Linked DNA regions of Homo sapiens. The protein of the gene in region 2 purifies or fractionates together with the protein of the main gene of each other region. This does not show direct contact. Each region holds a gene or a part of one and is shown on either strand. Other genes may lie near its edges.

The links.
Region 1: the proteins of PLEKHA7 (region 2) and CGN purify together in Homo sapiens (affinity purification with mass spectrometry; 2 studies listed by BioGRID and IntAct, with this or other methods). This does not show direct contact.
Region 3: the proteins of PLEKHA7 (region 2) and CTNND1 purify together in Homo sapiens (co-immunoprecipitation; 2 studies listed by IntAct). This does not show direct contact.
Region 4: the proteins of PLEKHA7 (region 2) and LIMA1 purify together in Homo sapiens (affinity purification with mass spectrometry; 2 studies listed by BioGRID and IntAct, with this or other methods). This does not show direct contact.

Annotation. Positions count from the first base shown.
Region 1 is NC_000001.11:151,506,918-151,514,516, reverse strand, and holds the start of CGN (cingulin), read right to left. Parts: upstream 3,131-7,599; 5' UTR 3,002-3,130; intron 1-3,001. UniProt on the Homo sapiens protein: Probably plays a role in the formation and regulation of the tight junction (TJ) paracellular permeability barrier.
Region 2 is NC_000011.10:16,815,161-16,822,849, forward strand, and holds part of PLEKHA7 (pleckstrin homology domain-containing family A member 7), read right to left. Parts: intron 2,163-7,689; coding exon 1,640-2,162; intron 1,105-1,639; coding exon 1,018-1,104; intron 135-1,017; coding exon of another isoform or gene 15-134; intron 1-14. UniProt on the Homo sapiens protein: Required for zonula adherens biogenesis and maintenance. Acts via its interaction with CAMSAP3, which anchors microtubules at their minus-ends to zonula adherens, leading to the recruitment of KIFC3 kinesin to the junctional site.
Region 3 is NC_000011.10:57,792,252-57,799,940, reverse strand, and holds part of CTNND1 (catenin delta-1), read right to left. Parts: intron 5,932-7,689; coding exon 5,860-5,931; intron 4,365-5,859; coding exon 4,212-4,364; intron 3,485-4,211; coding exon 2,949-3,484; intron 1-2,948. UniProt on the Homo sapiens protein: Key regulator of cell-cell adhesion that associates with and regulates the cell adhesion properties of both C-, E- and N-cadherins, being critical for their surface stability.
Region 4 is NC_000012.12:50,279,937-50,288,425, reverse strand, and holds the start of LIMA1 (LIM domain and actin-binding protein 1), read left to right. Parts: upstream 1-4,905; 5' UTR 4,906-5,006; intron 5,007-8,489. UniProt on the Homo sapiens protein: Actin-binding protein involved in actin cytoskeleton regulation and dynamics. Increases the number and size of actin stress fibers and inhibits membrane ruffling. Inhibits actin filament depolymerization.

The DNA.
Region 1 (7,599 bases), on a different chromosome or scaffold from region 2:
GGGGAGATTTGCCCAGGACAAATCTACTTTGCCTCAGTAACAGGACCTCTTAGCAACAGGACCTCCTCCTGGTCCAGACTTGCTGCCCTATGTAGTCATGATCTTAGAACCAGAAGTGCCTAGATTGCCAGCTCTCAGAAGCCATATGATTTATTCATGATGCAGTCTACCCTGTCAGTACATCTACTGATCTTCCAGATCCAGGTCAAGGAGTTCCCAGCCTAGGCCCAGCAGAGGGCACAGACCCTTGAGCAACAGCACTAAATTATTCAGAGGCAGTGTTGAACACTCCCCCAGGTCCCAGGTTAGGTTAACTCCCTAACCTCAATCACCTTCAGTCCAAGGACATGTGGATCAGGGGCCAGGAGGGCTGAAGGGATCTTTGGGGTGGGTCAGAAAGCAGGGCTCTAAATGATTCAACATGGAAAACCCGAAACCTACCCGCCTTTGGTTACAGAGGACAGTGGGGCGGGACCAAGGCAGCAGGGCAGCTCTGAGGCCTTGCGTAAGCCCCAGAGACAGGCAGGTAAACAGTGATCAAGGGCCAGGCAACATGGAGTCCAGGGCCTGCGCCCTCACCAATGCCTGACCCTACTTTTCTCTCCCCTATCACATGTCCAGGGCTCTCCTCACCAACTGTACTCCAGGAAGAGACCAGACCACAAGTTGATTCAGGTGCATCTGTCTGCTTCTGCCTTTCCTGCCTGCAAGGAGTGGGAGAACACTCTACACCTGTACCAGACAGCCACTTCTCCCTGAGTTACTCATTAGCCTGCCCTGCCCCAATTCCATCACCTCTGGCCCAGCCATATGCATCTGGTTTCCAACTAGGAGTGACAGGGTATCTGGACTTCTGGCAGGAAGTGGGGGTGGGGTGGTTTCGGGTGTGTGGAGGAAGGACTGATTCACATAGGGCCAGGCAATATGCTTGATGCTAAATAATTGGCAGATTTAGAAAACGGGAGAACTTGAGGTATAGAGATTAGAATCCCCTCAGAGGAAACAAGGAAAGCAAATGGTCGAAATAGAAAAGGACAGCTCAGTGACCTTGATGATTTGGCACCCTTTTTCTCATAGTTAGAGATAAGAAGGTTCCCCGTGGATCCAAAAAGAATCCCCCAAGTGGACTCCTGCCCAGGTCCGCTGAAAGAGCAGAAACCTGAGAGCCAGGCTACAGCTGCTTGGCCAGTAGGGAAAAAAACACAATGAGGAACTGGGCCCCTGCAAACTGGCTGGACTGGTTTGAGAGGCAAGGGGAAGGGGAGGGCCGGGGAAACTACACTGGCAGCTTGTAAAGCAGACCAGAGAAATTCCACACCACGGAGGAGGCAGAGGGGCAAGACCACAGGCAGGGGCTCTCCAGCCTTGATGGCAAAGCCAAAGCTCTGAAGGAGAGGACAGAGGGCAGGGAGGGAACAGGCAGGAGGAGCAGATGAACAGGAACCTGGTGACAGGCCAGTATGTGACAGGGAGACTTTGTCTCCCTCCACCCCTCCCTTTGAGGTTCCCAAAGTTGCATTCCTGATCCCACACTTGCTTTGGCCACCTCCCTGGTCCTCAGTCCGCCCCTCCCTGGCACAAAGAGAAGAGCCCTACACCCCCATCACCTCCCACAAGGGGAATGGCATGCAGGCCAGCCTGGGAAACACAGGAAGGGTTCTAGGAAGCCAGAATCCTCTTAGAGTCGGGCAAATCTCTGGATTAGCAGTCCCCCAGAGCCAGCCCCCAGACTCCCAAACATCCAGGATGAAAGAAGAGATGCATAGGCATGTGTAGGCAGCCCATCTACAAACATAGCGGTTGCTAATTATTTCCCAATTACAACAACCTTCCTCAGGCAGGGCTTCAAAGGGGCCAAGCTAAGGTTGACTCTAGTTCCTTTACCTGCCTAAGGCAAAGAAATTTGCCTCCAGTCTTGTCTGGGCCCCAAGGTGCACCTTTCATCTGTCCTGGGGATTTGGAGTTGTAATTTCCCTAGTCTCGTGGTCTCCTGATGAGTCCTGCCTATTTCCTGCCCCAATAGTGCCTGCTGCCATTCTGACAGCCACCGCAGTTCAGGAGTCAGGGATGCCTGGAGGGCGTTCAGGGAGTAATGGGGATTCCTCCAGACATCAAGGAAATTGGTTGGGCTCCCAAACCTCATCCAATGGTCCCCATCTAGAACCACAGAAAAAATATGTGGGTACTTGGAGAAAGGGTTTGACATCCGCCCCCAGAAAGGGGCCTCCTGAGAAATAAGTATTAATATTTATCAATATTTTGCAGGACCAGGCAGGGCTCTTTGCTTCCTCATATCCCTCTCTTGGGGAGTACTCTCTCTCTCTCTCAAGAGGAAGAAGGAACGATTCTCCCTGGCACGAAAGCAAAGGACACAAAGTGAAAGCCTAATGGTTGTACACCTGGTGAAGAGATGAGGGTGCCCTCTCATCTGCCCCTCAGTGTCTCTGATTCGCAACTGCCTTCGGCCGGAGGTGAAGGGCTGGGGAAAAAATCCCACACCTCAGAGTCATCTCAAAGCCACCAGGGTGCTGACAACGGCCAGCTGAGACCGCAGGACGCAGGAAAGACCCTCAGGCGAGCAGCACCTGCAGATGCCCTCCCCTGGCGAGTCTGCACCTCAGGCAGCAGCAGTTCCCGACTCAGCTGGAACTAACTCCTTCCCCGCGCCACCGCTGTCTCCAAGAGAAATTCTGCCCCTAGGGCTGGCGTCTGACCTCCAGAGACATCTGGCGCTGAAACGCTTTCATGCGCTGGGAACAGCCTTCGCCCCAGGTGCCCCTCGCCTGGCACCTTCCTAGCCACCTGCATCTGGCACCTCAGGGTAGGGGTCGGCTCTTAATCAGTACCCCACCCCGCCCCAATCTCCCCTCCTCCCGTCTCCCACTCGGCACCGGTGCCCTGGAGAGGGGCATCTCACACCGCCTCGATGCCTGCCCCTCAAAGGTACCCCTGAAGGCTCGCTTTCCTCTCGGGTGCCCTGGCCCGCACCGGGTCCACTCACCCTAGCCGGGCTCCGCGCTCCCAGGCTTGCGTTCGGGCTCGGGCTCGGGCTCGGGCTCGGGCTCGGGCTCGGGCTCGGGCAAAGCAGCACGCGCAGCTCCGGCCCTCCCCCTCGTCCTCGGAGCTCCCTCCTTTCTCTCCCTCCCACCAACCTGTTACTCCGCTGCGGAGCTCCACCCCCGCGGGCCGTCAGTGCCCGCCCCGCCTTTCCCCGCTCCGGTTGGTCCGCTTCCCGTAGGGGGCGGGGCCTCCGGTGCGGGGACCGGGACCCGGGGTCTCCAGCCGCGAAGGGCGGGCCAGGTCACGTGGACCCACGGGCTGCGGAGCGTCGGGGCGGGGCGGCGAGGGGCGCGGAGGCCATTTTGGGGGCGTCGCGGATGGTCGCGAGTGACCGCCGGCCAAGATCCCGGGAGCCGTCGGCCAGAGCATCTTCTGGGCTCTGCTAGAAAACAGCCTCCTGCCTCCCGTTTACTCCAAGGGAATCGCCGGCCAGGGCCCTTTCTGTCCTTCACCTACCTCTGCAGGAACCAGAATGCTCTTTCGTCACTTTCTGCAGAAAATATCTCCGTTGTCCCCCGACGTCAGAGCCTCCTGCACCTCAGCTCGTCTCCCTTTTCCCTGACCCGAACCAGAACCCTGATCTTGGATTCTCTTTTATCTTGTGGCCTCCGCAATCATTTTGCAGCCTGACATCTTTTTCTATGTAATATTTATCACCTTCTAGTTAATAACATAATTTTAAAAATCATTTTCATCATTTTGCCTCCCGTCCTACGATAAGCTTCACCAGAGCAAGGATCTCTTGTTCTGTGCCTTGCTTCACCCCAAACGCCTACAACAGGGACTGGTACATACTACATGCTTAATAAATATTTGTTGACTGAATGAATGGAAACCGGGGACGCAAATTTACCAAAATAGGAATGACCTTCGTTCTAAACTGAAAGGGACTCAGTTGTAAATTTACCTCAGAGTTAGCCTCTCAAAAAGTAGGGATGCTGATCCCAGTTCCTAGAAAAGAGTAAAAACTAGGGGCTCTGCAAACTGCAGGACCGCTCATACCAGCTGCAGTTAAAACAACATTAAAGCTGGCATCCTAGCTGTTAACCGTTGAGATATGTAAAAAAGAGATTGACTTCGTTTACGTTGCTGGGCTCCGGATTTTGTTCTCATTTAGTTACAACAAATATTTACCCTGTATCTATTGGAGTAGAAGAGGAATCTTCGATGCAGCACAGATTCCGGTGTATTCTCGGGAGCTGGTTTCCGCCCCTCCCCAAGCCTTCAAAAGCTAGGTGTGGGTCCTACAGAGTAAAGTCCACTTACCAGCTCCTCAGCTGGGATGCAAAGTCTCTGCATTCCAGAGCAAGCTGTATATAAGGATTAGGGCCATCAAACCGGCCTGTTCCCTGGGGAGGAACAGCAAAAAACATGTAGTGGGGGTGGGGACAGAAGAGGAAATGTCCTTCCAGGAGCGCACCTCCTGAACACTGGGTGGCTTTTAAAAGACTTTTTTTTAAAAAATTTTTTCTTATTTTTCTTTTATTGTGCAGCCTCCTGAACCAGAATAGGTTCAGAGACACTCCCATGGGATGGTTTTTGGTTTGGGTTTTTTTTGTTGTTTTTTTTTTTTAAGACGGAGTCTTGCTCTATCGCCCAGGCTAAAGTCCAGTGGCGCAATCTCGGCTCACTGCAACCTCCGCCTCCCAGATTCAATTGATTTCCGGCTAATATTTTGTATTTTTTAATAAAGACAGGGTTTCACCAGGCTGGTCTTGAACTCCTGTCCTTAAGTGATCTGCCCACCTTGGCCTCCCAAAGGGCTAGGATTACAGGCGTGAGCCACCACACCCAGCCTGTTTTGGGTTTTTTTGTTTTTGTTTTTGCTTTAGTTTTGTTTTTTTCATTGAGACGGAGTCTCACTCTGTCACCCGGGCTGGAGTGCAGTGGTGCAATCTCTGCTTACTGCAGCCTCAGCCTCCAAAGCTCAAGCGATCCTCCCACCTCAGCCTCCTGAGTGGCTGGAACTTCAGGCGCCCACCACCACACCGGGCTAATTTTGGCATTTTTAGTAGAGATGGGGTTTCCATGTTGTCCAGGCTGGTCTTGAACTCCTGAACTCAAGCGAACCGCCTGCCTCGACCTCTCAAAGTACTGGGACTACAGGAGTGAGCCACCACGCTCGCCCCCACCAAGTGTTTGTAAGGAGATTTTTTTTTTTAATGTGGGATATTAAATTGACTCAGATATTGGAAAGGCGGAAGCGCCTAAACTCCCCTAGATAACACCTTAGCAATTAGGATACTTAGTATATTTGTAGTAAATACCAATTTGGGTGGTTACCCAGCACCATGAACACGAATTACAAGGATAAGTGGGAGCCTCTGAGTCACCGCCTTCGTCATCTGTTCTTCAAGGAAGCACTCAGTCTGAGAGGTACATCCAGGCACAAGTGACAAAGGCGACACCCTGGTCTTTTTCCAGAGTTCAGAAGACAGGTGATCCCTCTCCTTAAGAAATGCTACAGGGCCAGGCGTGATGACTCATGCCTCTAATCCCAGCACTTTGGGAGGCCAAAACAGGAGGATAGCTTGAGCCCTGGAGTTGGATCGCTTGAACCCAGGAATTCAAGACCAGCCTGGGCAACACAGTGAGACCCCATCTTTATAAAAAATAATAATAATAAAATTTTTTCAAAAAAGAAATGGCAAAATTGGCCAGTTTATAAATACAGCAAAAACAGAATTTATAGCAAATATAATACCCAGAAAGAAGAAATAACACTGATAGATGTTAAAGAGAGAAGTTTTATTTTATGAAATGGGATAATAGAGAAAGTTTTAGGTAAATTGCAGGTTTCATCAAAGAAGTGGATTTGCCATCCTCGCTAACATGGTGAAACCCCGTCTCTACTAAAAATACAAAAAATTAGCTGGGTGTGGTGGTGGGCGCCTGTAGTCCCAGCTACTTGGGAGGCTGAGGCAGGAGAATGGCCTGAACCCAGGAGGCGGAGCTTGCAGTGAGCTGAGATCTAGCCACAGCACTCCAGCCTGGGCGACAGAGCGAGACTCCATCTCAAAAAAAAAAAAAAAAAAAAGTGGATTTGGAACCAAATTCCTCTCCTGCAATTCTTTCCTGAATTCTCCAAGATTCACTGATACCACTAGCAACTCTACTGAATTGTTCTCTCAAAGATCACCCGTTTAAGGCCGGGCACGGTGGCTCATGCCTGTAATCCCAGCATTTTGGGAGGCCAAGACAGGCGGATCACGTGAGGTCAGGAGTTCGAGACCAGCCTGGCCAACATGGTGAAACCCTGTCTCTACTAAAAATACAAAAATTAGCCGGGCATGGTGGTACATGCTTGTAATCCCAGCTACTCGGGAGGCTGAGGCAGGAGAATCGCTTGAACCCAGGAGGCTGAGGTTTCAATGAGCCGAGATTGTGCCATTGCACTCCAGCCTGGGCAACAAGAGTGAAACTCTGTCTCGAAATAATAATAATAATAATAATAATGGAAATGAGGTGATGCCACTAGCTGAAATGGAAAGGACAAGAGACAGGAAGGATTTGAGGAGGACCTAGAAGAAGAGTATGATAAATTAACTCTGGAACCTGATATTTTAAAGAAGCATGTGATGCCGGGCGCGGTGGCTCACGCCTGTAATCCCAGCACTTTGGGAGGCTGAGGCGGGCGGATCAACAGAGGTCAGGAGTTCAAGACCAGCCTGACCAACATGGAGAAACCCTGTCTCTACTAAAAATACAAAAATTAGCCGGGCGTGGTGGCACACGCCTATAATCCCAGCTACTCGGGAGGCTGAGGCAGGAGAATCACTTGAACCCGGAAGGCAGGGATTGCGGTGAACAGAGATCACGCCACTGTGCTCCAGCCTGGTCAACCAGAGCAAAACTCCGTCTCAAAAAAAATTTTAAAAAAGCATGTGGTAAATCCACACACACATACAAATGTCTAGCAAACAACTGGAAATGAAGCCTAGAAAAGAAATCAGGGCTAGAGACAGAGCTAAGAATCATCCTCATAGATGAAAGTTTGCTAAGAGGACTACAGAACAAACTGTGAGAAATAAAGGACAGATGAGGAGTAAAAACGGGATCATTGTGGGGTTATTGAGAAAGGTAAGTAAAGAAGTTCATGCAAGAGAGGTATTCAAGTAGGAGAAGAGACTGGAATTTGGCATTTCGAAGTTATGGGTGATCTTCCAGACGTCAGTTTCAGCAGTGTGATAGGCTTTCAACTCAGAATGCAATATAAGAAGTGTATCAATAAAAAGGAAAGAGAGAGGGTACCTTGACTTAAAGGAAAACAGGGTAAAAGAAAGGGCAACTTCTATGTTTGGTTTTGGGGTTTTGTGGGGAGACTGGTGGGGGGGTGTTTGGTTTTTTTTGAGACAGGGTCTCACTGTCACGCAGGCTGGAGTGTAGTGGTGCAGTCACGGCTCACTGCAGCCTCAACTCCTTGGGCTCAAGCGATCCTCCCACCTCAGCCTCCTGAGTAGTTGGGACTACAGGTGCACATCACCACACCCAGCTAATTTTTGTATTTTTTGTAGAGAAGGGGTTTTGCCATATTGTCCA
Region 2 (7,689 bases):
CCACCAGTGCTGACCTGGCAGGTGGGAAAGGTCAGCTGGTGCTGCAGTAACTGGCTGATGGCGAAATTTCGCACACTGGCCAACTTGGCCTGGTGCCGCCTTAACCGGGTGAGAAGCAACGAGAGCTCCTCCAGCTGCAGATGTGTAGACACAGCACAAGGAAGTTAGCACCGCAGGAGCACACTGCTAGAATTACGCTCTTCACCCCGGTGTCAGTGCCAGGACAGCACTGATGTGACACCGTTAAGCAATTACTGTGTCAATTCTGTCATTAGGACAAATAAAGGCACTGGCAGTAAAAGGGCTTCAGGAAGTTTTTTTCAGGAAAGCAACAACCAACAGTGCAACCTCACCCAGACTCAAGCTTTTTTTTTCTTCTGCTTTGAGACAGTCTTGCTTTGTCACCCAGGCTGGAGTGCAGCAGCGTGATCTCGGCTCACTGCAAACTCCACCTCCTGAGTTCTCGTATCTCAGCCTTCCGAATAGCTGGGATCACAGGAGTGTACCACCACACCCAGATAGTTTTTGTATTTTTAGTAGAGACGGGGTTTCGCCATGTTTGCTAGGCTGGTCTTGAACTCCTGGCCTCAAATGATCCACCCACCTCGGCCTCCCAAAGTGGTAGGATTACAAGTATGAACAACCACACCTGGTCTCAGACTCGAGCTTTGAAGATTGAGTTAACTAGTTAACTAATCAAAGATCAGGGAAGAAAGGAGAGGCACTGCCTGTGGAAAAAGGTGGGTAGCTGAAAAATGTTTCTGGCAAAATTCATCTTGAAAGAGGAGATAAGCCTAATATTCCCCTACATTTCCCTGATACGCTCTTCCCCTTCACTGGGGACCCAGTGACAGCCAGGTGACCCTAAGCAAGTCATTCAACTTCTCTGAGCCTCAGTTTCCTCATCTCTAATATGGGGGTTAATAGCTGCCCTCTGGACTGCATTGTACTAACTCAGAGGAAGGAAAATGTTGATGAGATAGGGCTTTGCAGGCTATGTCTTGTCATTCACCCTACCGATTTTCCATGTAAACTGGGAGCGCTGACGGTGTGGGTCATGTAACCCATGGAGGGCATGGAGCGTCGGTCCACATGAGATGAGTTCTGCAAGTGGGGAGACAAGAAGTCACACTGGAGCCCAAACCTCTGCCACTCACTCCCAGGGAAGCCGCCCCATGCCATGTCCCCTCTGAGCCCCAGACTTCTCATCTATGAAATGAGCACACACATCTTACTCTCAGGGTTAGAACACTAAACTGTGAAAGCCTCTTGGAAAGTGAAAACTTAAGCTGGATTGTTATAATTTAACTGACTGGACACAGATGTCTTTTCCTGCCTTTCAAGATGCAAGGAAGCTGACTTGTAGTTGTGTGACCCTGTGCAAGTTACTTTGTCTCTCAGCGCCTCAGAGTTCTCATCTTTGAAATGGGCATAAACATAGCACCTACCTCACAGGGTTGTGGTGAGAATTTAAAGCGAAGCCCTTGGGAACTGTGCCTGGCATCTATTATTAAAATGTACTGCCTAAGTATTAGCTATCATTATTATCCCAAATTACTCAAATTTGTGTTCAAACCAGGCAAAGCTCCTGGCGCCCTCATGATGACCCAGCAGCCTGGCAGAGCTTCCCGAGCCTCACCTTGACAGCGTGGCCCCGTGCCCTCCTTGGAGAATCCCCCAGCGAGATGTCCACACTCCTCCTCTGGTCCGGTGGCTTCACTGTGACTCGCTCTGCTGGTGTGTGTGGCCGCCGGGGTGGGAAGACCCTTGGGGGTCCTGGGGGAGGGATGTCCGAGGGAGATGGAGGCACAGAGATGGAGCGGGGCACCTCTAGCATGCTCCTGCTCCGGCCCTGGTCGGTGAACTCTGGGGAGCCAAGGCAGATGGGCGCTGTGGGGCTGCCGTGCCGGAACTGCTGGCGCTGCTGCCACTCGTAGAGCTGCCACACGGTGCCATCCCGGTGCGCCCGGCGCTCTTCACTCGACATCTTCAGGTGGCTGGCTCGGTCCTGCGCATACTTGTAGTCACTTGGCAGGTTTCGGGGAGGTGGCGAGGAGCCCCCCGAGGGGTGTCGGGTGCTCTTGGGAAGAGTCTGGTAGTTTTCTGGGAAGGACAGGGATTGGCCAGGACCCTGGCGAGGAAGCGTCTGGTCCAAGGGAAGACTGAGGAGAAAGGGTAAGAACGGGTCAGGCAACCAAGCGAGGGTTCTGCAGGCTTTGGGGAACATATCTAAGTAAACCCACAAAGCTGGGCATGTGGGACAGTCCTGTAAGAACCTCAAAAGAATGATCAAGGCCGACATCCAGGACTTCAGTCACTTCCCCTTTTGGCAGACGACTCCAAAACCATTTTTCTCTGTCAACTTCCTCTGCCAGGACAACTTGGCTACCCCATGCCCATCACTTGGAGTGCAATGTGATTAAACCTGGCTTTTCCTTCTCTCTCCGCTGCCAGCAGTCAGCTCTTTCAATGGCTATGCATATTTATAGGAAAGGCCTCACAATTCTCCAAGTTACCAAGATTTTCTCTCTGCCTGGTATCCTTAGCACCAAGTTCCAGAGGTTCATAAAGGAAGTGGTTGGCATCAGTTCTCTTTTTTCTGGACTCTTCTAGTCCAGATACTGATTAATTATCTCCCTCCAGACAACTCTGAGATGCTCCTAATGGGTTTCCACTTTGTCCACAGTCAAGTGCTCTGATCATATCAGTTCCTTGCTGCAAAAACTTCCATGGCTCCTTGTCCCTTCTGAAATAAAGTCTAAACTCCTCAGCCTGGTACTCACAGCTCGCTAGCAGCTGACCTCAACACCCACCTTGCAGGCCTGCTGTTTTCTCACTGCTCTTCCTACGGGCCACGCCAAATGCCTAGGGCCCAAAACTGAAGGAAGTACTCCATCTCAGGGTCACCCCTACACCTGCTGGTGCCTGACAGCCTCACCCTAGTCCCGTCCCAGCCTCCTCCACACCTTAGCAACATCTTGCAACGGAAAAAGGAAAAAGGAGTCTAACCTGGGTTTGAAGCCAAGCTTGACACTTGCTGGCTTTGTGACCCTAGGCAGCTCACCTGACTGCTCTGACCTTCCGTTTCCTTACTTGTAACAGGAGGATAGTATTACCTGCCTCATAAGGCTCTTCTGAGGAATCAATGAGACAGGTTAGGAAATGCAACCCCCACATCTGATACACAGAAGGTCCTTCACTAACGTGTGTACCCTTCCTGCCCTTCTTACTCTTATAACACTGTTCTTCCCTCCCCCTGCCTGGATGGTCTCCCCTTGCTCTATTTACCCAAGTCTTACTCATTCTCTAGGATGCTGGCTCATGCCTTCCCCCACGTGGACCTTCTGTAGTGCCACAGCCCTCAGTGATCCAACTCTGTTTGACCTCGTCATCACACTGCCTGTAACTTTTCCAAGGTCCTATATTGATGTGATCTTTTCATACTTCCAAGACATGTTTTCCCAGGCCAAGGTGAAAAATTCTTGAAAGACAGGAACTGTGTTTCACACCGTGGTATTGTCCACAGTCTAAGAAAGTCCTGTGCGTAATTAGCCCTTCAATAAACACTCCAGCACACAAAACTGGATATGACTTCAAAAACTAACACCAACTAGCCATCTTATTTTCTTTCTTTTTTTTTTCTCTCTTTTTTTTCTTTTTTGAGACAGAGTCTTGCTCTTTTGCCCAGGCTGGAGTGCAGTGGTGCAATCTCTGCTCACTGCAACCTTCGCCTCCTGGGTTCAAGTGATTCTCCTGCCTCAGCCTCCTGAGTAGCTGGGACTACAGGCGTGTGCCACCACACCCGGCTAATTTTTTGTATTTTTAGTAGAGACAGGGTTTCACTGTGTTAGCCAGGATGGTCTCGATCTCCTGACCTTGTGATCTGACCGCCTCGGCCTCCCAAAGTGTTGGGATTACAGGAGTGAGCCACCATGCCTGGCCGCCATCTTATTTTCTTCTGGAGTCTCGCTGTTTTGCCCAGGCTGGAGTGCAGCGGTGCAATCTTGGCTCACTGCAACCTCCGCCTCCCGAGTTCAAGGGATTCTCCTGCCTCAGCCTCCTGAGTAGCTGGGACTATAGGTGTGCACCACCACGCCTGGCTAATTTTTGTATTTTTAGTAGAGACGGGGTTTCACCATGTTGGCCAGGCTGGTCTTGAACTCCTGGCCTCAAGTGATCTGCCCCCCTCAGCCTACCAAAGTGCTGGGATTACAGGCATGAGCCACCGCACCCAGCCTCCAACTTATTTTCTGAGAAGGAAAAAAAATTAAGCAAGGGACAAAGTATGGAATTTTACTAAGCCTGAGAGGCAGCATGATGTTGTAAAAAGAGAACAAGTTTTAGAGTCAGACAGGCTTGAGGTCAATTCTGACTCTGCCTTCACCTATCAATTTTATCTAACATTTATTTGGTGCTGATATTGTGCCAGACATTGTTCCAAGCCAACACTACTCAAAGTGTGGCCTGTGTGCCACCAGCATCAGCACCACCTGGGGACTTGTTAGAAATGCACATTAATGAAATAAGCCAGGCATGGAAAGACAAATACCGTGTATGACCTCACTTATATGTGGGATCTAAAAAGGTCAAACTCATAGAAGAACAGAGTAGAGAGGTAGTTACCAGAGGTTTTGGGAGGGAGAGGAGAGATGGAAGAAGAGCTGTTGGTCAAAGGATGCAAAGTTTCAGTTAGGAGGAATAAGTTCTGGTGACCTACTGCACAGCATGGTGACAATGGTTAATAATAATGTATATTTCAAAATTACTAAAAGTAGATATTAAATGTTCTTACCACCAAAAAGGATAAGCAGGTAAGGTGATGAATGTCAATTGGTTTGATGTAATCATTTCATAATGTATACATATATTAAAACATCACATCTACCCCATACATATAATTATTGTCAATTAAAAATAAGATATATTTTTAAAATGCTGGTTATCAGCCCCACCTCAGACCTACCTAATCAGAAACTCTGGGGATGGTGCCCAGGCATCAGTGTCTTAACAAGCCCTCCAGGAGATTCTAGTGCTCTGTAAGGTTTGAGAAACTGTTCTAATTGTTTTAAAACTCAACTCATTTAATCACTTTAGCTATATGACCTCAGGCAAGTATCATCCAGGCCCTCTAAGTCTCACCTTCCTTATTACAAAATGGGGATAGTAAGAACCACTTAGAAAATTGCTGTGAGGATTTGAAATAGTTGTCATTCAAATAAAGCTATCTTTGCCATTACAGTAGATAATTTTAAGATCTCTTCAACCTACTTGTCGTGCCTGCCAAGTGAGTCGGCCTGCCACTAGGTGGCAGGGTTTGCTATCGATCTCCCAAAGTTAGACACAAATGTGCCTCTGAGACGGGGCAGTGCCTGAATCCTCAAAACAGAGGTGGTAGCGGTGGCAGAAACCAGGCTGGAGGCTTCCCCTGGGGAGTTCAGGACTTGACTAACCATTGTTCATTCTGCCAGAAGCAAAATGCAAACTATGCAAAGCATTTCAGAGCTGTGCTCCCACCCATACGCCCTTCCTGCCTGGCTCTGCAGCTCACTCCCCTTGCCTGCCTACAGTGCCTGGAAGGTCAGAGTCCACCCTCACCTCCCCACTGCCCCACTAGCTGCACCTCAAATCCCTAAGCTCATCCTCTAACCTGTACCCTCCATTTACACATAGTCTGCCATTCTGGAATGACCCCAAGGTACCAGTGCAATGGTGAGCCCTGGCTCTAGGGGTCAAAACAAGGTAACTATGGAGGAGGGACACAGGAGGAGGTGGTACTGTGGTTGAGGTATAGACCCCATGCGAGCAAGTGGGTGCTTCCAGAGCAGCTTTGCCCCTAACAGCAGATCCATTTGCTGGCCCCCTAACCTCCGGTCTTACCCAAAAACTGGGCTCAAGGTCTCCTTATACCATGCTCTGTGGCCACAGGGACTCCCTGTCACTGAACAGGCACTAAACAGGATATTCTGATACAGCCATTACAGAAATGGTCATGTGGAGATGCAATATCATTTTTTGCAACAAATTATTATACTTTACTCAGCAGATGTTCCTCACCCTAACTTCCAGATCAATCACACAGGACTTCCATTTTCTACTCTGTTCCTTATTGTAGTGTTTGAGTCTCCTGATCCTAACTCTATCCCTCACCCCAACATTTCTATTTTACAAGTATGCATTACTTTAAACACTGGGAGGTCAGGGTGGGAAAATGAAAGCCTAAAATTTCAAAACAAGCTCTTAAAATACAGTGAGATTCTAAGAGTGTGTCAGTCTGTCTCCCACAAACCATATCCTAAAAAAGTTTAATGTGAAATTTGTATCTCCAATTAGAAATACTTCCCTGTTGGTTTAAAGCCAAAAATACAGGATCATATTGCAGTTCAAATAACCTTCCTCCCAATGTCTTAATGTGCTCAGTCTAATGAGATTAGCAGTCTTGATGATATGCAAAGCAGAGATATCTATCTCATATATTTTCAAATGGAAAATGGAGGAGTTCCTTTATTCAGCACCTAGATCTATTTATGACTAACTGTAAGAGACTACAAATATATCTTTAAGAAAAAAAAAATCTGGGACTATAAGAGGCAGACCTTTTAAAATACAAGAGGATAATCAGAGACTGAGACACTTTGCTCACTTAAAGATTGACAGCATTTTCTGTTCTGTCTTCTGCCTTCAATTCTTCACTTTTATTCACTTTCTAGCCCATTGAGATCTGCTTGCCCTACTGGAATGAAATTCCTCTCACTGTGTGCTCAGTGACCTCTAAAGCCAATGAGCTGTTCTCCTCTACAGACCTGATGTCTCCCTTCCCCTTAGATAAGAATGGCTCAAATCCCCATCTTGCATCCCAGGGAAAGTCCTATGCCCTCCCCACCCACCTCTCATTTCCCTGTTAACTTCTCATCCTTTAGGTCTCTGGTGCACACCCCACTCCCAACTCTCAAATTCAGGCCGTTGTGTGTAGCAGAATAACATGGTTTACAGGCTGCTGGAGCAGTTATGCGGAGACATTTCATAACTGACAACTTATCACTGCATATCAGTCACCCAGCTTTTGAAAGTTTTTTCTGTGCCCCTGCCACAAAGAGTTTCTCACTGGCCATGCCGTCTTACTGATTTCAACCCCTCCTTTTACTCTGCGTCCTGAGCTAACTTTGACCCTGTAGCTCTGTTAAGCATGGTAATTCAGGTTTGCCCATCTAAGCCCATCAAGCAGCTCAGTGGAAAAAGGGTTTCTGTTACTGAGCAAAAGACCCGTGAGGTTCTGGACTTTCCTTCAGGGGTGCCCAGCCTCCTTGAAAGGTACCACATCTCAAGTGTCTGCTTTTGGTAGGGGAAAAAAAAAAAAAAAAAAAAAAAAGGAAAGAAGGCACCACGCCCAGGTGGAAGTCCTTACCTGCAGCACCGTGCACTGCTGACTGGACTCCTTCCAGTTGAAACTCTCCCCAACAAAACCTCCAGTTTTCCTCCCCCATCTTCTCTTCATCTCCTTCAGGTGACTTAGCTTTTGCCTGACCCTTAGGCTAGGGGTCCTCAGTGTTCTGTTGTTGGCCCTCTGCAACTGTGCTCTCTCAGTTGAGGATTCTTAGTCCTGGCTGCACATTAGATCACTGGGGGAAGAGGGATAGGGGAAAATGTGCTTCCTAAAACCCTTATGTCCAGGCTGCAACCCAGACCAATGGA
Region 3 (7,689 bases), about 41 Mb from region 2:
GGCTATTAAGCAGTATGTTAAGATTCCATTTTAGTAGAGGGAAAATAGGATATAGTTACATGTATAATTAAAAAAACTCAAAGGATATGCACCAAAATGTTAACAGTGGTTCTTTATCAATAGATGGTAATGCTTTTCTGGGTTTTTCAGGCTCTGTATTGAACATGTTTAACCTCTATTATTAATATACAAAATTATAAGAACAATTACCATAACCAAAATTTCCAGATAACTCTATCCTATATCCTTTTCTATACAAAGGCAGTGGATTGGACATTCTTTCCTTTGTTTTACAAGAAACAAAGCTGTGCCTGGGAAGACCAAATGACTTGCTTGAGGCTACTTAGCTAGTGGCAAAGGCACAACTAGAACCAAGGTCTCAGGGTTCAGTGCTTTTTCCACTAATCACTGCCTCACTGTTTAAGTTTGACCTTGTATTACTCTTCTAGCCTGGAACAGGAAGCAGCAAATATGCTTGCTAGTCAAGCAGGTTTCCAAGTCCAGTGCTACCCTGGAACAAACCCAAGAACCAGGCCCAAAACTCTATGTGAACTAGCACAACTAGGGATGGCAGAGAATGACCTGGCCACCCACACCCATCTGGGTCCAATCACTCTTTACTAATGAGGAAGTCAGAAAAAGCAGACTTGCAGTAGAGCCAACACCCTGGACAGACTGCTTCAATGAAGGCTGTTATCTACCACTGCTCTAGGTTGCACCAGCCGAGGTCTGGTGCTCCTGTAGGAATAAAAATGAGTCACATGGGAGTTGGATTAGCTATCCAAGACACCTGAAAGGTGAGTGACTCAGTCTTAGATAATGGGGCCTCTACCCCTGGGCCCAGCCCTGTTCACTCTTAACCAAAGCTACCTAATATATGAGGAAAATGAGCACCAAGGCATTTGCTTTAAAAGGTCATGACCCCATATAGAGAAATTCAGCAACAGCTGCTAGGATATCCTTACCATCAAGACAACCATAAATCATCCCTTGTTTCTTATCATTTCTCTTTACCTGGAAAACACTGTTTCTAATTTATTCTGAAGCAGCATTGGCAGCCCATGGGCCAAACCTGTTTTTGTACATCCCCATAATGCTATTTTTAAAAGATTGTTTGAAAAAAAGAACAACATACGACAAAGATGATACATGGCCTGCAAAGCCTAAAATAGTTCTACGTGGTCATTTTCAGGGGTCTGTCGACCCCATTCTAAAGCATTCTCTCAATGCAACAAGGCAAACCATGTACCAGTCCAAACATCAATCACTCCTTTTTTCACATCACCAAAGAATCTCCAGGAACAAGTAGTAAAGTCAGAGTAGGCAGCTGCTTAGTGACCTTTCAGAGTGTTGCTAATGTATCCCCCGACCCCCACCCAAGGATGCCACCACAATTTCACTTTACAATCAAATAATAAGACCCTAAGCATAGAATGTCAAGGCCCTTGTGAGGTCAAAGTTTGTTTTTAACTTTGGGATTAAAAACACAAGAAAGTTCTTATACACGTCCTCAACTGTCTCTTTTGGTTCTGAATTCCTAAAACCCTCAACTATGTTTTGTTTTGGGGTTTTTTTGGCTTTTTTTTTTTTTTTTTTGAGACAGTCTCACTATGTCACCCAGGCTGGAGTGCAGTGGCGGGATCTCGGCTCACTACAGCCTCTGCCACCCGGGTTCAAGTGATTCTCCTGCCTCAGCCTCCTGAGTAGCTGAGACTACAGGCACGAGCCACAACACCCGGCTAATTTTTGTATTTTTAGTAGAGACAGGGTTTCACCGTGTTAGCCAGGATGATCTCGATCTCCTGACCTCGTGATCCGCCCAACTCGGCCTCCCAAAGTGCTGGGATTACAAGCGTGAGACACCGTGCCCAATGGACTCTGTTCTTAATACCAAATCAGAAACTAAAGAAATTCCCAGGAAGAAGTGAGCAAGAATTCCATGGCCCCAGACATCAGAATCCTCTGCCTAACACACCAAAAGGGGGTCACATCTTAGCCAGAAACAGCAAAAACTTCAGCATAGAAGCAGAAGCAAAGTTCATTCTTCAGGACACAGACTAATAACAATCACAAGTTGTTTTTTTTTTTTTTTTTTTTTGAGGTGGAGTTTCGCTCTTGTTGCCCAGGCTGGAGTGCAATGGCATGATCTTGGCTCACCACAACCTCTGCCTCCCGGGTTCATATGATTCTCCTGCCTCAGCCTCCCGAGTAGCTGAGATTACAGGCATGCACCACTACGCCCAGCTAATTTTGTATTTTTAGTAGAGGCGGGGTTTCTCCATGTTGGTCAGGCTGGTCTTGAACTCCGGACCTCAGGTGATCCACCCACCTCAGTCTCCAAAAGCGCTGGGATTACAGGCGTGAGCCACCGCGCCTGGCCCATATATTCAATTATAGAAAACAACTTGTGGACCAGGCGCGGTGGCTCACGCCTGTAATCCCAGCACTTTTGGAGGCCAAGGCGGGTGGATCACCAGAGGTCGGGAGTTTGAGACCAGCCTGGCCAACATGGTGAAACCCCATCTCTACTAAAAATATAAAAATTAGCCAGGCGTGATGGTGCTTGCCTGTAGTCCCAACTACTAGGGAGGCTGAGGCATGAGAATCACTTGAACCCAGGAGGCGGAGGTGGCAGTGAGCCAAGATGGCACCCCTGTACTCCAGCATGGGTGAAAGAGCAAGACTCTGTCTCAAAAAAATAAAAAATAAAATTATATTATTTTCATTTAAAAAATTATATATATATTTATATTATATATATATAGCAAGTCAATACTAAGCCAAGTCAGAAAAGGGAAAAACAGGGTAGCTTTTCACCCCAAAAAAAAGCAGAGGGGAGGAGGCCACGAGTATCTCTGATCCCAAAAAGCCCCTAGAAGTTGAAGGAAAAGCTACCCCTTGTCCCTGGTCTTGGAAAGACCCTTTTCTCTTCCCCTATTCTTGCCTACCTGAGGCGCCGACGAGGGTCAGAGGGTGTCCCAGTCCGACGGGCAGTGCCATAATCAGACATCATACCATAATCCAGGTCATCATAGCCCATACTACGCTGGTCATCCTCTAGCCCATAAGGCTCTGGATGAAAGCGATGCAGATCCACGCTGCTCCCACCTACCCGAACCTGGGGTTGGGGCCCATACACATCCTGTCTACTAGGTGCCCGGTAGCCTTCCATGCTGGGCCTATACCGCTCCTCAATGCGGGTCACCCGGGACAGACTGCCATAGTTATCACTGCCACCTGGATAACCATCTTCATAGTGGCGACTATAACCATCAGGAGGGTAGTGGAAGTTCCTAGGAAGGGTAGCAGTGCCAGCTTGCCCCACATAGGGACCAGGTCCCCCATTGCCATTCTTGCGGAAATCACGACCCAAAGTCTGGATATAGTTGTTAGAAACTGATGAAGCATCCACAGGCAACCCGTCTGGTCCCATAGCGACTGGCTGTACTGTCCGTGTTGTCACAGTCTTCACTACTTTCTTGACCTGCAAGTAGGAAACAAGAAAAAGAAAAACTAATTAAGGAAGTGAGCAATTAAATTCTTTTTTTTTTTTTGAGATGGAGTCTTGCACTGTTGCCCTGGCTGGAGTGCAATGGCGTGATCTCGGCTCACCTGCAACCTCTGCCTCCCAGGTTCACGCAATTCTCCTGCCTCAGCCTCCCGAGTAGCTGGTATTACAGGCACACACCACCACACCTGGCTAATTTTTTGTATTTTTAGTAGAGACGGGGTTTCACTATGTTGCCCAGACTGGTCTCAAACTCCTGACCTCGTGATCCGCCCACCTCAGCCTCCCACAGGGCTGGGATTACAAGCGTGACCCACCGCGCCCAGCCATGAACAATTAAATTCTATACCACTCCAAAAGAAACAAATCTTTATATCCCTAGGTCACTTTACCTAGGAATGCCTTAAAGCCTACCATCTATCTTTCTTTCCATCCTATAGGAAGTCCCCAAGCAGGAAAATTGCCCTGACAGTAACTATGCTTATAAGGGAAGCTACTATAGACCCTGATATACCTTCTGTCTTCCCTATCCCATAAGATTTTCCCATCTCTTCATCCTTTCTATCTGGCCAGAGATCACTTCATGCAATCAGATCAATAATGGCATATCAGTCCTCCATCTTAATTAAGTGCTTAACCCCTCCCCTAATAGAGAAGAAAAGACCTCTTATCACTTCCAGATCTTACACACGTCTTAGTTTACCGTGGTCTCTGTGCGCCGAGTGGTCCCATCATCTGAGGTCTCCACAGAGACTACAGACATGGCTCCCTCAGGATCCTCCTCCGTGTAGGTCTCCACAATCTGCCCCGGCTCCTGCATCCTGGGGATGGTGCTATATAGAAGGTGACTGTGATCCTATATGCAAAAGAGAAAAGAGAAGAAACTACTATTAAGTGCTATGTATAACAAGCCATCCTAATAAGAAGCATAAGTGGTAAACCTGGAGACAGGGACTCCTCATGCATCTTCTATAGGCCTCAGGATTTTTAGATGGGTGGCTGTCATCTTTTGAACTTGTACAAAAGGACAGTAGACATAATTTCCCAGTTGTAGTCATTTAACAAACATGAACTAACTATAGCCACATCAACATCCAAGTGACAGACAGTAGATTTAACTTCCCAGCTGTGGTCATCTAAGTGAACATGAACTGTGTTAAATGCAGTTTCATCTATATCTGAGTGATCCCTCAAAAGAGCAGCTCACCCAATAAATAAATAACTTGTATTTATTTACTTGAGATAGGGTCTCACTCTATCACCCAAGCTAGAGTGCAGTGGCATGATCATAGCTCACTGGAGCCCCAACCTCCCAGGCTCAAGCAATCTTGCCATTTCAGCCTCCTGAGTAGCTAGAACTACAGGCTCACGCCACCATGCCTGGCTAATTTTATTTTTTTTGTAGAGACAGGGTCTATGTTGCCCAGGCTGGTCTTGAACTCCTGGGCTCAAGCAATCCTCCAGCCTCAGCCTCCCAAAGTGCTGGAATTACAGGAATGAGCAAACCACGCCTGGCCAAAATAAAGAACTTTGTTTTTTTTTTTTTTTTGAGACGGAGTTTTGCTCTGCCTTGGCCTCCCAAAGTGTTGGATTACAGGCATGAGACACCGTGCCCAGTCTAAAATAAAGAACTTTTTTTTTTTTTTTGAGACAGAGTTTTGCTCTTGTTGCCCAGGCTGGAGTACAATGGCATGATCTCAGCTCACCACAATCTCCGCCACCTGGTTTCAAGCAATTCTCCTGCCTCAGCCTCCCGAGTAGCTGGGATTACAGGCATGTGCCACCACGCCTGACTAATTTTGTATTTTCAGTAGAGACGGGGTTTCTCCATGTTGGTCAGGCTGGTCTCCAACTCCCGACCTGAGGTGATCTGCCCACCTCAGCCTCCCAAAGTGCTGGGATTACAGGCATGAGCCACCATGCCTGGCCAAAAATAAAGAACTTTTAAGACAAACCTGAAAATCCCAGTAAGAGCCATCTTTTGACTGGCTTTATGTTACTCTTCAGATACCGTCTAAAAGGCTCAAGACCAGCCAGATTTTAGGTAGGGTTTTTTGCTGCAAAGTAGAAGCCTACTGTCTCTAGAAAAGAAACGCAGTACTTAGGGATCAAATGGGGTGGCAGTGGGGAGGAGGAATAGTCATAAAGATCAATGGTCATTAAAATTCATTCCAAAACAAAACTGCATATATACTTTGGAGCTCCACTTCTTTGTTTTCGTAAATAAAAGAAACTAATTGACGAGTATGTACAATGTGCCAGGCACCTTACAAGACACAAATATGCTCTTATAGGCTGGGGAAATAAGAAAATATGAATGAAGCAACCCAGGTCTTGAGCCAAAGAATTACCTGGGGTCCGTTGAGTTTCAAATCTGAAAATTTCTGTCTTTCAAGGTCAGCATCGCCCACAAACCGGCCGTTCTGAAACACAGCCCACAAGAAGACAATTCATTTTGTGGCCTTCTTTTGCTCTATCAAATACAAACGATCTTTTTTTCAAACAGGAAAAGGGCTTTCAAGAAGATATGTGTGGCCTGGAGTCCTTGTGTCAGTACTCATAAAAGAACCATTCACTCTTTAGTCTTAGCACTTTCCTCAAAATTGAAAATCAGGCCTGGAACTCTGGCAGACAGGGTCTCTGGAACATAAGAACGTAAACTCCACGAGGGCAGAGGGTTTTTTGGGATAAGTTTAGTTTAGTCTAGTGCCTTGAACAGTGCCTGGCACATAACAGGTGCTCAAAAACTATTTGCTGAATAAACAGCACAGACCTAGATAATTTCCCTTACATGCAACCTTTTTGGAAAGCCATAAAAATGTAAGGAAAGTTGGAAGGGCTAAGTTGGGGGGTTTCCAAAGAGCTTTATAGTCTCATGAATCTTCATGCAGTACTACCACTGGAAACTCCCATTCCAGGCAGCTTTTTAAAGAAAGAAGCAAGATGGCTATCATGTCCTAATGTAAAAAACAGAAATTTAATTAAAGAAAAAAGCAAGAGATACGAGTCTCCCTTTCCAAGTACAAAAACAAGCACCCCAACTCCCCTCAAGAAAACAGAAGGCTCAATATCTTTACCAACAATTATTAGAGCCACAGAATACATTCCAAAATGTCATCCAGAAGTTGCTCTGTCTTAAGCAGCAGGAAATAATCTAATGACATTATACCACATAAAAATATATTTGCCTGCTCCTCTTCCAGTAGAATAGTGAGATCCAACCACCTTGGGAGACTCTTCCTCCACCCCACTCCCATTACATAGAGTGTAATGCTGCAGGGAGAGGAAGTTAAACATTACTTTCAGGAAGAAGGAAGGGTGTGGTTTTACTGCTAAGCAGAAGTTAAAAATAAGAGAGCAACCACATACTGAATCCTGGAATTCCCCATGACCTCCAAACCTGAGCAGTCCAGCTTTCTCCTTTCAATATAATTTCATCCCTAACTTTCTATTGTAGTTCCTGTAAAAATCCTAGGAACACTGCAAGCATGCTGCCTCCCTCAAATTCCTTGATCCTCCAACTGGAATTCTGTTCTCTCTCAACTGCAAGGCTCCTCAGTATGAGGGACTTTCTCTATCTTAAAAAAAAAAAAAAAAAAATCACTCAGCCGGGTGCAGTAGCTCACGCGTAATCCCAGTACTTTGGGAGGCCGAGGCAGGTGGATCACGAGGTCAAGAGATCGAGACCATCCTGGCCAACATGGTGAAACCCCATTTCTACTAAAACTACAAAAATTGGCTGGGTGTGGTGGCACACGCCTGTAGTCCCAGCTACTCAGGAGGCTGAGGCAGGAGAATTGCTTGAACCCGGGAGGCGAACGTTGCAGTGAGCCAAGATTGCACCACTGCACTCCTATTTAAATAAATAAATAAAAATTACTCAATGAAAAGGACTATCAGGGCATGAGTACTGTTCTGGTTCCCACTCAGAGATCTCTCGTAAGATGCAATCTATCAGGCAATGTCTACCACACACACACATGCGCGAGTGCGCGCGCACACACGCACACACACACAGAGGAAGACAGACAAAACCTCAGACAGATTACATCACAGCAAAGTCAGACTAGAAAAACCAGAGGAAACACAAGATACTTCTCATTTCTAACACCAACTCTCCCAAGTCACATCACAGAGTCAGCCAACCCAGAGACCACTGGCTCCTGTGGTTATTTGGGTTA
Region 4 (8,489 bases), on a different chromosome or scaffold from region 2:
CAAGATGAGAAGATTGCTTGAGGCCAAGAGTTCAAGACCAGCCTAGGCAACATGTGACACCCCATCTCTACCAAAAGTTTTTAAAAATTAGCCAGGTGTAGTGGCATGTGCCTGTCGTCCCAGCTACTTGAGAGGCAGAGGCACGAGAATCACTTGAGTTCAGGAGTGTGAGGTTGTAATGAGCTATGATTGTGCCACAGCACTCCAACCTGGGCAACAGAGTGAGACCCTGCCTCAAAAAAAAAATTATTAAATGGAATGACTTCAAACTGATGACTTAACCAAATATTCAACTTGAGAGTCATGCTTTCTAATGCCAATTTTTAATTTTTCCAAAGCTTTTATAGTGCATTCTATTAATTTTTTAATTTTCTGAATGTTGGTTGATCTTAACTGCAGTGCAACTGAAAGTAATGAAAATTATTTAAGAATATCAATCATTAAAGTAAGGTATTACAAGAAATTAATATTAGCTGATCTTGTTGCTAGGCCAGAATAAAAAGAATGAGAAAAATGCATTTATAATGTAGGATATGTGTGCCATGCAGCATTAGCGGTTGGTAAAGTACATGTCCACCCATCTCAACCTAAGTACTTGGCTAATTTTAATAATTTCAGTTTCAAGTTATTTAGCTATAATTTCCAACTGTTTCCTTTTTTTGGGTTGGTGGTAAACAGAATAAATTTTATCCATAATATTGTTATTTTTTCTTGAGACGGAGTCTCACTCTGTCTCAGGCTGGGGTGCAGTGGCACAATCTCAGTCCACTGCAACTTCCGCCTCCTGGGTTCAAGTGATTCTCCTGCCTCAGCCTCCCGAGTAGCTGTGACTACTGGCGTGCACCACCACGCCCAGTGAATTTTTGTATTTTTAGTAGAGACAGGCTTTCACCATGTTAGCCAAGCCAGTTCTGAATTCCTGACCTCAAGTTATCCGCCTGCCTCGGCCTTCTAAAGTGCTGGAATTACAGGCATGAGCCACCGTGCCCAGACTATCCAGAATATTTTTAAATGATTGACTTGTTTTATTTCAGATACTGAATTATAATTGGTAACAGAACCAAATGATGACATTAGGAAATTTTTCTGACAAATCTGTGGCCACTCCAGTCTTCTTTCCCATTATTGTGAAAGCACCATTAAAACAAAATGCAGCTTACTTTCAACTATTCATTATTAAATTTCAAATATTCATTACTGAAGCCACATTTAAAGTAGACAATATCGGCTGGGCGCGGCGGTTCACGCCTGTAATCCCAGCACTTTGGGAGGCCAAGGCTGGTCGATCACTAGAGGTCAAGAGTTTGAGACCGGCCTGGCCAACATGGTGAAACCCTGTCTCTACTAAAAATACAAAAATTAGCTGGGCTTGGTGGTGCACGCCTGTAATCCCAGCTACTTGGTTGAGACAGGAGAATCACTTGAACCCAGGGGGCAGAGGTTGCAGTGAGCCAAGATCGTGCCAGTGCACTCCAGCCTGAGGGACAGAGCACAACTCTGCCTCAAAAGAAAAAAAGTAAAATAGACAATAATGTAGTAGAAATATAATCTGTGTGGCAGACACCAATTACTTTTTTTTTTTTTTTTGGAGATGGAGTCTCGCTCTGTTGCCCAGGCTGGAGTGCAATGGTGTGATCTCTGCTCACTGCAACCTGTGTCTCTGGAGTTCAAGCGATTCTCCTGCCTCAGCCTCCTGAGTAGCTGGGACTACAGGCGCACACTACTACACCTGGCTAATTTTTGTATTTTTAGTAGAGATGGGATTTCACCATGTTGTCCAGGCTGGTCTCGAACTTCTGACCTCGTGATCCGCCCACTTGTGATCTGCCCACCTCAGCCTCCCAAAGTGCTGGGATTATAGGCGTGAGCCACCGTGCCCAGCTGACACCAATTCTTTTAAAGCAACAAATATCTTTACCAGTACAGAAGCTTATTCAACTGTGTACTGGAGATAAATCTCTAGGTAATTTTCTTCCAATATGTAGATGTCTCATCAATTATAGTGCATATTTGCCATTCTCTTCCAAGATTCTTAAATATGTTGACATAATTTCTTTTGCAGTATGTTCTGCTATTCTTGTTGCACCGTATCATGTATGTAAACATTTGCCTGTATCTACTCCATTTTTCCCTTTCAACTCTATTGTTCCCTTCACTATCAGATAAAGGCCTATGAGTTTTTTGTTTGAGACAGGGTCTTGTTCTGTCGCCCAGGCTGGAGTGCAGTGGTGTGATCTCGGCTCATTACAATCTCCAACTCCTGGGCTCAAGGCATCCTCCCACTTCACACTCCCAGGTAACTGGGATTACAGGCACACACCACCACACCCAGCTTTTTTGTCTGTTTATTTTATTTGTTTGTAAAGACAGGGTTTTGCCATGTTGGCCAGGCTAGTCTCTAACTCCTGGCCTCAAGTGATCCCTGCCTGGGCCTCCCAAAGTGCTGGGATTACAGGTGTGAGCCACTGCACCTGGCCCATGCCCATTCTTTAAGTATTGTCTATGGCTACTTTGGCACATTTGGCACTACAGTGAGAGCTGAGTAGCTGTGACAGAGACTATAAGTCCCACAAAGCCTAAAATATTTACTATTTGGCTGTTTACACAAAAGGTTTGCTAACATATGGTCTAGAAAAATCAACAAAACAATAAATCACGCCCTGACTTGCTGCATTTGCCCATTTCCATGGTGTAAATACTCCCCTTACAGCCAATTTCGTGCTACCAATGTGACATTTCTGAATAGAGTTGGGAAGAGATGCATACAACATATGTAGTATTTCCACAGGGAATACAATGGACAAATAACCTCAAGAGCAGAATTATTAGTAAAATGAAGAAAAAAACTACAAAGTGATGAGTTTTTAATATTTATTATATTTAAAAATTTTTTTTTAGAAATAGGGTCTCACTCTGTTGCCCAGGCTGGAGTGCAGTGGTGTGATCATAGCTCACTGCAACATCAAACTTCTAGCCTCAAGCCATCTTCCCGCCTTAGCCTCCCAAAGCACTGGGATTACAAATGTGACTCAACATGCCTGGCCTATTACTTTTATTTTTAAGATAATTTAATTGTAGCTTATATAATTTGATTTCTAATAATGGTTGTGCTTATGACCTGGCTCATAAAATCCCTGAAAATTTAGCAATCAACCTAATGCTAGCTCTATCTTCAAAAGGAGGCTTTGGGAAAGCAAGTAATTTTTGTATCCACTAAAGCACAGAGCTAAAAAAAATTGGGGGGAGGGGAGACATCTATTGAGGGAACGCCACATGCAGGGTAACGTATTTTCTGGAGTACTATCCTGTATTGATATTGTATGCTCTTTAGCATTCCCATGCTGTCTGCCACTTTTGCTGGAGTCTTGATACTTGATACTGTTAATGCAAAATAAGTAGCAGGCCATTAGTTTGGAGTTGTTTTTGTACCCAGAAAGCAACCCAAAATTTAGAGGTATTCCTTGCACCTTTTGTTTGTTTTGTTTTTTTGAGATGGAGTCTCGTTCTCTCATCCAGGCTGGAGTGCAGTGGCGAGATCTCTGCTCACTGCAATCTCCACTTCCCGGGTTCAAGTCATTCTCGTGCCTCAGCCTCCCGAGTAGCTGGGATTACAGGCACTTACCACCACGTCCGGCTAATTTTTGTATTTTTAGTGGAGACGGTGCTTCGCCATGTTGGCTAGGCTGGTCTCGAACTCCTAACCTCAGGGGATCCGCCTGCCTCAGCCTCCCAAAGTGCTGGGATTACAGGTGTGAGCCACCGCGCCCGGCCCCTTGTACCTGATTTTGAATGGAGTTTCAACCAATCACAAACAGACAACCAGCCAAGTGGTTATATAATTAGGGACCTCCCATGTGACCATACCCAAATAAGGCAAACGCTTAGCTGTAGCCAATCAAATTTCTTTACTTTCGTGTTCAGCCTATAAAGTTTGATGCCTGGGCAGCTAGAGCAGGGGTGTCTGAGCCTCTTTTGGTTCTGACTGTTGTCCGATTCAAAATCTAAGTTTGTTTTGTCTGAAATTTTTATTTCTACAATACCTATCCAGAAATCAGTCTAGGCTGGATATTTGAAGGAAGAAGGGAATAACTGGCTGGCATATTCATCACCTGTTGGAAATCTCTCTTCTCACACATTTTCATTAACTTCTTGAGGAAGTGTAATTACAAGCGTTTTCCCACGAGCAGCCCCTACTAATAACGCATCAAGCTGCATGAATTCCGAAAAGCTTCAGAAAACTTGTGGTCTGAAACCCTACTATGCTTGAGGTACAGGAAAGAAGGATACTATCAAAAGGCATCATGCAGCTGGCACGGAACTGGGACAAGAATTTGGGGGCAGGATGGCCAAGTGCTAGGCCAATTGACGGTCTCCAAACCATTAGCACAGCTCCTATTCTGAATGGAGGAGTAAAAACAGCTGTTGGAGAACTTGGACGTCATCTGCCCTTGTCAAACCGTTTTCAGGATTAATGTACTTAATTCAGCTTTTTCCACTACACCACACAGCCTCCTGTAAAACACCCTCCCTGCACACAACTTACCCCCAAAGCACCAGGAACCTAGCTGGCTAGAGTTGAGCTTAGGAAAAACCTGAGTGGCTCCAGAGTCAAACTGCGATAACGTTGAGTCAGAGGAGTTAAGGACAAAGTAGAGCTGCACAGAGGCCCACGTCGTGCAAGTGCGTGTCTCCTTCAGAGAAAAGCGTGCCGAGGTAGACTAGGCCCCGGGCAGCAAAAACCCTGTCCCGTCGCCAGCGCCCCGCACCGCCAGAGCGACTGGAGCAGACGCGAGCGCTGGGCACGTAGCCGGTGGCGCGCACGCTCAGCCCGAGGCCGCACGGGAGGCTGTCTGGCGTGCGCGCCCCCGCGGCGGTGGGCGGGGTCCGGGGCGGGGCCGCAGGAGCAGTAGGTGTTAGCAGCTTGGTCGCGACAGGTGCGCTAGGTAGAGCGCCGGGACCTGTGACAGGGCTGGTAGCAGCGCAGAGGAAAGGCGGCTTTTAGCCAGGTAAGGGCCTTCTCTCTCCACAACCGGAGAGTGCGGGAAGACCCCGGCTTCTCTCCACACCCTCTTTCTCCTTCGACTTTTGGGGCGGGGGGAGTGCAAGGAGTGTGAGTCCCTCCCCCTCGAGATAAGGGGTCGAGGGACGCTGATCCTCCGTTCTTTCCTCACTTCTGGGGCCTGCGCTGGGTGGGGAGTGCTTATGTCGGGCTGAGCCTTTGCTGCCCAAGGGCGGGAGCTGCAAATACCCCGTCCTCTCCCACCGAGAACACTGCATTCTAACTGTATACTTTCTGGTGTGGTGGAGGAAGGTGACAATTCATTAAAACTCCAAATACCCTCCTTCCAGGGAAATACTGTAATATTCAACTGTTCTTTTTCCTTCATTTTCAGCCATTCCCTCTCTTTTCGATTTTTTCTCCCTTCCATTACGCCAGCTGAACTCTGTTTAAGACACTTACACCCTTTTGAGGAATGTTGAGAATATAGCAGTCCTTGCAGCCGATGTGTCATCCCCGAATCGCTATCGTGTATATATCGCTGGCACTTGCCCCCGACATATGTTGGTGTTAATGTAAGGTAATTGTACACCCCTGGCTACACATACTAAAGCTTGAAGTTGTAGCTGCTAGGAACGAACCATCTGGCACCCTTCCTAGCCTCCTTACTGATGCTTGCAAGAACGGTTTAGCTGATCCTGGTGAGAGATATTTGAACTACTATTGTCTTGCACCTAATTCCAGCTTTCAAAAGTCTGCCTTGGACGGGCGCAGTGGCTCACGCCTATAATCCCAACACTTTGGGAAACTGAGGCGGGAGGATCGCTTGAGCCCAGGTGTTTGAGACCAGCCAAGGCAACTTAGCGAGACCCTTGTCTCTACAAAAAAATAAATAAATAAATAAAAATAAAAGATAAGTCTGCCTAATCCAGATCTGCCTAATCCAGATGGTTCAATTGACTTGACTTTTCAGGTTAGTCAAAGGTAATTAGGGAGTTATCAGTTTTTAAGGCAATGCCCATTTTGGGGAGAGGTTTTCTTTTGCATTAAGTATTCTTTCTTTTGCTCTTGATTTAAATGGTTTAACACAGTACCTTTTATCTGCTTGGTTACCAATACTATTCACAAATGCTAAATATTTCAGGAGCCATGAAATAACACCAATCCTTTCTTCTGAGGTATGATGTAGACACAAAAGAACATGACCCCTAACAACATGTTCTAAGTTCCTGTAGAGGTATAACCTGGGTGCAGGATGATCACGTTTTAGATAGATCTTCAAAAAATTATAGAGTTGGCGTGAAAGAAGGCAAAAAAAAGTGTGTGTTCATATATGTTTTCTTGTTTTGCATTGATAGAACAACATATAATGTACTAGGTAATTAGTTTAGGAACTTATTTCATTCTTTGGACAAAATATTGAGTGCCTTTCATGTCAGTCCTACTGTAGATTCAAAGTGCCAAACGTCTTTACCCTAAAAGAACTTAAAATCAAATGGGTTAGACAGATCCACATACAATTTATGGTATTAGTGAGGTCATTTCTATACTAGAGGTCAGCCCAGGGTACTGTAGGAGCATAGGGAATATAGGTGTTTTGTTTTGTTTTTTAATTCTCTCTTCTGCTTTTCCTTAAAAACAAAAACCTCTGAGTAATAATGAGTGATTCTCTTCAATCTATGTATTTGTATCACTTTCATATTTCTTACCCTCTCTTCCTCCAATTCTATGGCCTATGGAAAATGGGATTAGACCCTGTTGTTAATGTGGCATTTAGTAAATAGTTGGATCTGTTTCCACTGTTCTGTATTGGGCTGGGAAGTGTTGTTATCAGGTAGTCCCTGGGAAGAGAACAGTATATTGGCAACATTAGCAAAGGAGTGCCATTTTGTAAAAATTACCTCATTGTATAACTTTCTTTAACTTGGTACACTCAAGCTTTGTTCCAGACTCTGGTTAAAGGTGGGGCTAAATTTCAACCTAATAATTCTAAAAGAAAGCTTCAGAAGCTAAAACAATTCACATCTTGGTGACAGGGGATACTTTTTCCTGCTAAGATGCCCTCAAAATGTTTTTCTCTTTCTTTTTTTCTTGGGTGGGGAAGACAGGGTAGATAGGTGGGTGGGGAAAAATGTTTTTAAGTATAATTTTGACTAGTGTTTCTTCAGGTTTCAAATTCTTATATTTTCTCTGGTATTTTTCACCAGTTAACTGCAATTAACTTAGAGCCCTCGTACCAAAAAAATTTATCAAAGACACACACACAGACACAAAAGAATATTGAGAGTGTGGGAGTTCATTAGACATCTTTGGCATAATAGGGCACCTAACCACAAATTGGAAGAATTTATTATTTAAATTGACAGTGAAACTAGTTTCAGGCATTCTTAATTCCATACACTATTAGATAGATGACTTTTAGATTAGAATTGTACCCTTTCTGCAGATAGGAAAATGTATAACGAGTCCTAAGTTAGTAATTTCCATTAGAAAAGGCAATTGTTTTTTAAGTTTGCTATTGTCTTTCACTGTATGTTTTTTGATAGAAACTTAAGGTACTTCATTTTAGATTGCATACAGTAATCTCCAGGTGAGGTTACTTAACACAGCCTCTTCAGGTTACTAACAAACCAGTGGTTGTAAATGAAGTAGTTTCTACTTAATGATTATGGAGTTGAGAGTCTATGGTGGATGATAAGGTAGGACCATACTGATGAGTTTATTCTGAAGCTGGGTGCAGAGTCCTCAAGACTCAGTCAAATTATTGTGCTACTGAAGACCTCTTTTCATAAAAAGGATGGAGTTTGACCTAACAAGCAATCCATTATTCAGCATGTCAGATGATTTCTTGACACGTGAAAACTTTCTAGAGACTTCCTGTGTCCACTCATAAGAAGTTAACATGATACCATGAAAATTTTACATTCTTTTGATGTTCTTTTAAATAATTTCTTAATACTACTACCCTGGGCCGGGCGCGGTGGCTCACGCCTGTAATCCCAGCACTTTGGGAGGCCGAGGCGGGAGGATCACGAGGTCAGGAGATCGAGACCATCCTAGCTAACATGGTGAAACCCAGTCTCTACTAAAAATACAAAAACAAAATTAGCCGGGCGTGGTGGCAGGCGCCTGTAGTCCTAGCTACTCGGGAGGCTGAGGCGGGAGAATGGCGTGAACCCGGGAGGCGGAGCTTGCAGTGAGCGGAGATCGCGCCACTGCACTCCAGCCTGCGTGACAGAGTGAGACTCCGTCTCAAAAAAAAAAAAAAAAAAAAAAAAAAAATACTACTACCCTGAAACTAAGAACTTTCATCTTTAGGGGAAAAAAAGATGCAACTTTTTTGTACTTCTGATAACAAGTGTGGATCTATTTTCCCCCTTAATTATTCTGTAACAGAGTTTATGATATGGAAAACTTTACAGTCCTTCAAATATGTTTTGTCTTGCACAAAGTATTGCCATTTTTGTTTCATTACCCATAAATTAGTCCC